Homo sapiens: one gene and its partner. The protein of the gene in region 1 purifies or fractionates together with the protein of each later gene. This does not show direct contact. Each region holds a gene or a part of one and is shown in the gene's direction. Other genes may lie near its edges.

The links. Proteins that work in one complex are often made in the same cells at the same time.
Region 2: the proteins of ABCB9 (region 1) and DDX60L fractionate together in Homo sapiens (co-fractionation; one large-scale study listed by BioGRID). This does not show direct contact.

What each region holds. Positions count from the first base shown.
Region 1 is NC_000012.12:122,945,964-122,949,463, reverse strand, and holds part of ABCB9 (ABC-type oligopeptide transporter ABCB9), read left to right. Parts: intron 1-634; coding exon 635-840; intron 841-3,241; coding exon 3,242-3,439; intron 3,440-3,500. UniProt on the Homo sapiens protein: ATP-dependent low-affinity peptide transporter which translocates a broad spectrum of peptides from the cytosol to the lysosomal lumen for degradation.
Region 2 is NC_000004.12:168,414,493-168,417,992, reverse strand, and holds part of DDX60L (probable ATP-dependent RNA helicase DDX60-like), read left to right. Parts: intron 1-1,195; coding exon 1,196-1,311; intron 1,312-2,193; coding exon 2,194-2,336; intron 2,337-2,475; coding exon 2,476-2,585; intron 2,586-3,500.

The sequences.
Region 1 (3,500 bases):
TGCTCCCATGGGGGTCAGCAGGTGAGGGCCAGGGGCCACAACGGGGAAGACGATAGAATATCCACCAAGATCCAAGCTCTGAGAGACACCGGCCTGGGTCGAAGCCCTGGTTCCTCCACTCACGAACTTCACCTCTCTGATCCTCTGTTTTCTTGTCTGTAAAATGGGAACACGGATAGTAGCCACCCCATGGGGTCCTTACACAGCTCTTAGCACAATGTCCAACTTAGGTAAGAAGTGTCTGCGCTTTCCTGCCCGCCACCAGCCAGGTTGTTATTTCCCTAGAAGGGAAGAGGAGTTACCCCCTCTGCCAGTGACAGGGAGGAGACATGGGTTTGAAGTCTGGCTCAGTCACGGACAGGCTGTGTGACTCTACGGGGGCCTTCCTGTTCTGAGCCCCAGCCTCCTCCGCTGTACAGCGGGATGTCATGAAGCTTAAGCAAGATGCTGATGACTGGGATTGGCTCAGAGTAGCCCTCGAGGGGTATCTGCTCTTCTCCCCCACCCCCCAACCCCGCCCACAGGTAGGGAGGCCCGGCTTCCCAGTGTCTGTCTCAGAGGCCCCTTAGCATCCCCCACCGCCACCCCCAAGGCCCGGGTTGCTGTGGTGAGAGCTGAGCCGCGTGTGTTCCAGGGGACCTCATCTCCCGCCTGACCTCGGACACCACCATGGTCAGCGACCTGGTCTCCCAGAACATCAATGTCTTCCTGCGGAACACAGTCAAGGTCACGGGCGTGGTGGTCTTCATGTTCAGCCTCTCATGGCAGCTCTCCTTGGTCACCTTCATGGGCTTCCCCATCATCATGATGGTGTCCAACATCTACGGCAAGTACTACAAGGTAGGCCTGCCCTGTCTCTGCTGGGGACTGTGCACCCTGGCAGCCCCCAAACATCCCCTTAGGAGGGGCTCAGGGGGCCACTAAGGGCTAGTGAAGGACAGGTCTTGAGGCTGTGTTTGCATTCATTCATTCATTTCTTCGCTCATTCAATAAATAATTATTGACCACCTGCTATGTCCCAGGCACTGGGATACATCAGTGAAAAAGACAAGGCCCCTGCCTTCCTGGAACTTGTATCTAGTGTCAGAGACAGATACTAGGTACCAACAGCATAAAGAATGAGAATCCACAATACAGTAAAAGATGGTCAGTGCTAAGGAGAAACATGAAGTGAGCAGAGGGATTGGGAGCATTGGGTGTAGCTGCAATTTTAAATTGGATTTACTGGCTGGGCCCGGTGGCTCATGCCTGTAATCCCAGAACTTTGGGAGGCACAGGCAGGAGGACCACTTGAGCCTAGGAGTTCGAGACAAGATTGGACAATATAGCAAGACCCCATCTCTACAAAAAAAAATTTTTTTTAGTTAGCTGGGCTTGGTGGCGCATGCCTGTGGTCCCAGCTACCTGGGATGCTGAGGTGGAGGATCGCCTGAGCCCAGGAGGTCGAGGCTGTAGTGAGCAATGATCGTGCCACTATACTCTAGCCTGGGTGACACAGCAAGACCCTGTCTCTAAAATGAATGAATAAATACAAGTTAAATAGGTCTTGCTGAGAAGGGGACATCTGAATAAGGGTCTGAAGGAGGCGGGCATCTTGGGAGGTATGTGCTGAGCAGAGGGCACAGCCAGTGAAAAGGCCCTGGGTTGGAACGTGCCTGGTGTGTATGTGGGGGTGGTGCGGGCCCGCTGTGATGCCATCGCGGGCCCGCTGTGATGCCATCATGGGCAGGCTGCTGTCCCCTCTGGCCACCCCACGGCACTGCTTCTGCTTCCGAGCTAGGGCCGTGAGCCAGGTTTGACCTCACCCTCCTCCTGCTTCCTGAATGGGCGGGTGCCCCCGAGCCCTAAGGGACAGACAGGCTGGGTTCAGACAGGCAGGGCTGTGACCCTGTGACAGGTACAGGCAACCCCCTCACAGTCACCCAGGCCCACGTGGGGTACTTCTAGAGCAGGGGCTTGGATGCATGACGGCCTCCAGGTGGTGCCGGGTAAGTCATTGTCGCAGCTCCATTGGAGCCTTTGGTGTTGGTGACCTGAGACCAGGGTAGCAAAGGAAGCCATCTCCCACCCAGCCCCCGGTGAGGCCACTCCCCACAGTCTTCTCCAGCCACACAGGTAGGACCTCTTCCCGAAGTTCCTGGTCACGAGCCTCCCCACCGTCCTCACTGAGATGAGAAAGTAAATCTATTCTTTAGAGTCTGAGCCATTTCTGGCACGCTGCTCCCCACCCCTTGCTTCCGGCCTTCCCACCAGCCCCTGGGATGGAGCAAGAAACCCTGGAGCTCCCCCTCAGCCCCCACCTCTGTGTGCACTGCAGGCCCTGCCTTTTAGTTCAGCTAAGGGAGGCCTCAGGAAGGCTCTGTTTGGGTTTTCCACCCCATGCCTGAATGTGTTGTGTGTAGCCAGCGAGTCATCTCCACAAACCACACACACCGCCCATGGCCAAACATGACTCAGGCACCCTGCATGCTTCCTGCGGCTGGGGCGTGACACATGGTCATGGGACATGCCAGTGCATGCTCCTGTCCTGGACTCTCAGGCAGCCTTCCTGGCTGGCTTGAGAATCAGCATAGTGACTCCTGCAAAGTGTGAACAGCTCCACCCAGGGGCCTCTTCCAGGACTCTGGTGAACAGCAGCCTGATGGCCGCACACTTGGGACCACTTTTCAGCTCTGCCTGTGGTGACATGCACATGGTGTGGGCAGATTTCACAACCCATGGCCCCTGCCACCATGTAGAACTTGGCTGGGAGTTCTGGAATCTCTTTATCAACCCTCAGGCTCTAACATAATTTATGTTGATGATGTAAATGGTGCCCCTTTAATAGTTGGTGTTTCTTAAATAGTGTACAACCTGAACAACCGTCCAAGGCATCCCCTGCTCTTCCAGCACAGGGTCAGGTGTTGAGGCCCCTTTTCTGAAAGGATTACCAAAAACTGTCCAGTCATGAATAGCCTCTTTTGAATACTGGGGATGACTTAACGATCAGCACCGTGCCCTATCCTTCAGGAGCTGAAACCATTGCCCCAAGAGCCTCTCTGGAGTTGACTACCTGAGTGTGTCAAATTGAGCCAGAAGGGGATGGGGGAGAAAGGGCTAGATCTTGTCTTTTTGTCCTAGGAACCTCTTGCATATAGCTGGTGCCAGCGAAGGGTGGAAAAACCCAGAGAGGCCTGGGGGCTCCAGTACATAGTGAGGCTGTTTTGGGGTCTTCTCCTTCTTGTCCCCCTCCTGTCCATAGAGGCTCTCCAAAGAGGTCCAGAATGCCCTGGCCAGAGCGAGCAACACGGCGGAGGAGACCATCAGTGCCATGAAGACTGTCCGGAGCTTCGCCAATGAGGAGGAGGAGGCAGAGGTGTACCTGCGGAAGCTGCAGCAGGTGTACAAGCTGAACAGGAAGGAGGCAGCTGCCTACATGTACTACGTCTGGGGCAGCGGGGTACGTGCCCCTGGCCAGGCAGCTCTGGCTGTGGAGGGATGGGATGCAAAGATGGGGGAAG
Region 2 (3,500 bases), on another chromosome or scaffold:
AGAAAGTTCAGAGAAATTGCCTGCTGATACAAAATATAAGATTAGCATTTGGTAAAGTGGGCGATTATCTGACTAGATCAAAGTCAGAAGGGATATGAAAATATTCTTCTTTATGTATTTATTACTAGCCTTGATTAGTAAGTCTTTCCAGCTGAGACCCAATTGTCACGATGTATTCTGTTTAAGACCAAAATTTGGACCTCCTCTCTAAGTCTTAATTTGCATTATTGAACCAAAGAGGATTGATTCATTCATTCAACAGATATTAATTGAGTACCTACTCTGTGCTAGACACTGTGCTTTCTCCCTGATATGCCAGTACTGACCTTGTGGTTTAGTGAAGGGGAGAGCAATTAAATAAGTAAATGTACCAATGAAAATATAAGTAAACATTGTGATACAAACTCTGAAGAAAAAAAAATCAGTTAGTTTTCACCAAGATAATAGCAAAATGGGAAGTAAGAACAACAACTTTGGAGCAGGTACTCAGGGAAGGTGTTTCTGAGGCAATGACCTTCAGCTGGGCTTTGCAGGGATAAGCAGGAATGGTCAGCTAAGAGGTGGATGAGGATTTTAAGTAGCAGGGTCGTATATGTGAAGGCCCTCAGGTGGAACACGTGTGTTCAAGGTATGAAAAGAAGGCCAGTATGTTGGGAGCAGAGTGCATGGCGGGGAAAGTGGCCTGAGATGGGGTTGGAAAGGTGGGAAGAAGCCAGACCATGCAGGAAGTTACACTTCCAGTTAAGCAGCTTGTGGTTTACTGTAAATGCATTGGGAGGACAGTGTAGGGATTTAATTAGGTATGTAGCCTAATTTGATTTTTGTTTAATAATACCATTAGGGCTATGATGTGAAGAAAGTATAGAGAAAGAGTGGAAGCTAAGAGAAAAATCAGAAGGCTGTTGTAGAAAGCCAGGTGATGGTGGCTTCAATGACAACAAAAAATGGAGAGAAAAACATAGCTTCAAAATAGATTTTTGGAATTGGAATCTGTAGGAATTAATAATGGTTTCGATATGGAGATTGGAGACAGTTAAGTGTCATGATGTCTATTGTCTGAATTTATCACCATTCACTTTATTTAGGTTAGGTCATTTATAGGAAACTGGAAAAATATGCATGATGATTTTATGCTTCTATTTTTTATTTACGATTTTGACATCAACTTTTCAACTGATTTTTTTTTCTTTACTAGGTCCATTATCTTGGCAGAGAAGTTGGAGCAAAATTTTGGGAGCTCCTCCTTGTCATTATTCGATGTCCCTTTTTGGTTCTTTCAGCTACCATAAATAACCCAAATCTTCTCACCAAGTAGGTATAGGTAAAAAGAGTGGTTGTTATATATTCAGTGGTTGAATTATATACTGTCTATATGGTCTGAAGTCTTTAAGGTTTTTTCTATGATAACTTTCAAATAAATTTATTACCCAATCTTTGAAACGTCAGTGGTCTTGCTTTGTTGCCCAGGCTGGCCTTAAACTCCTGGGCTGAAGGAATCCTCCCACCTCAGCCTCCTGAGTAGCTGGGACCACAGGTGTACATTACCATGTCTGGCTTTCTCAAATTTTTTTGAAGATATATTTCCTGGAAGTTAGAGAAGGAAAACATCTTCTCCAAAGAAAATCAAGGTCTCCCATAGCCAGATCTGAAATTGTGCAGGACAATTTCTAAAAATTTTCAAGTAAATGTCATCTGAAGTAAGAGAGAGAATTGTATCCCCCTTTCTTTGTCCTTATCCAATAATTAAAGCTAAAATGGAAATAACTGGGACACAGTCATTGACCTTGCAGATGACAATCATAAGAACAACAAAGCATTATATGAACGTCAAGTATTGTTTTGTTACCAGACTTGATTTTTCCTGGTAACAGCGACGATGGCAGTAACAGCAGCACTGGTAACAAGCACACAGTGCTTTCTATGTGGCAGGCACGCTAACTCATTCAAGCCACGCAACACCCTTATGAGAAAGATACTTTCGTTATCTTCTATGTTATGATGGAGAAAGGGAGGCATAGAGAAGCTGAGGAATTTGCCCAAAGTCCACAGCTCTGAAGTCAACTCAGGTGGTTTAAATTGAGAGGGCATGCTCTAAATTTTTAAACTTGTGAAATTTTCTTTGTTTAAAATATCCAAGTTCTTGATAAATACTTCTATATTTTATTTAAATTATATGCATGTTTATTCTGTAAGGTGGCTGCAATCAGTAAAACAGTACTGGAAACAGGCAGACAAGATTATGGAAGAGAAATGTATTTCTGAAAAACAGGCTGACAAATGTCTCAACTTTCTCCAAGACCATTCATATAAAAATCAATCATATGAAGTTAGACTTGGTAAGCTTATTTTTTTTATGTTTTACTATATATTTTTATATTTTACTACAAAGCTTTTTATAGGGATTTTTGTGTTTTAAATCCATATTCTAATAATCGTATGTCCATTAATTTGGATATTCTTGCTCTTCGTATCTAGTGCTCTGTGGAGAGAGATACAATGATTTAGAGAAGCATATATGTTCAGTAAAACATGATGATGTTTATTTTGATCATTTTCATCCCTGTGCTGCGCTAACGACAGATATTGTAAGTATAAAAGTGTATTTGTCCTGTTAGTGGAATTTTTAGTGTATATCGCAACTGGAAAGGGACTCAATCTTCATAGAACTGCAGCATGTATAGATAATCTTTTTCTTTCTTTACTGATTCTTTTATTTTATTCATTGATTTTTTAAATTTAATACATTTTTTATTTTTAATTTTGTGGGCATCTAAAGTAGCTGTATATATGGGGCACATGAGATATTTTGATACAGACATGCAATGCATAATAACCACGTCAGACTAAATGAGGTATGTATCCACTACCTCAAGCATTTATCCTTTAATGGATACACAATGGTAATTATGTATCCATTACCTCAAGCATAATAACCACATCAGACTAAATGAGGTATGTATCCATTACCTTAAGCACAATCCAATTCTACTCTTTTAGTTATTTTAAAATATACAATAAATTACTGTTAGCTATAATCCCTCTGTTGTGCTATCACATACTAGATCTTATTTATTCTATCTATTTTTTTGTGCTCATTAACCATTCCCTCTTCCACCCAACCCACTGTCTTTGCTAGCCTCTGGTAACCATCACTCTACTCTCTGTCTCCATGCATTCCATTGTTTTAATTTTTAGCTCCCACAGATAAGTTAGAACACGTGAAGTTTTTCTTTCTGTGCCTGGCTTATTTCACTTAACATAGTGACATCCAATTCCATCTATGTTGTTGCAAACGATAGGATCTTATTTTTTTTTATGGCTGAATGGTATTCCACTGTTTTTAAGTGCCACATTTTCTTTATTCATTAATTTGTTGATGGGCACTTAGGTTTCTTCCAAATCTTGGCTATTGTGAATGGCGCTGCAATAAACATGAGAGTCCGGATACCTCTTTGATATACTGATTTCCTTTTTTTTAAGTATATATGTAGCAGTGGTAT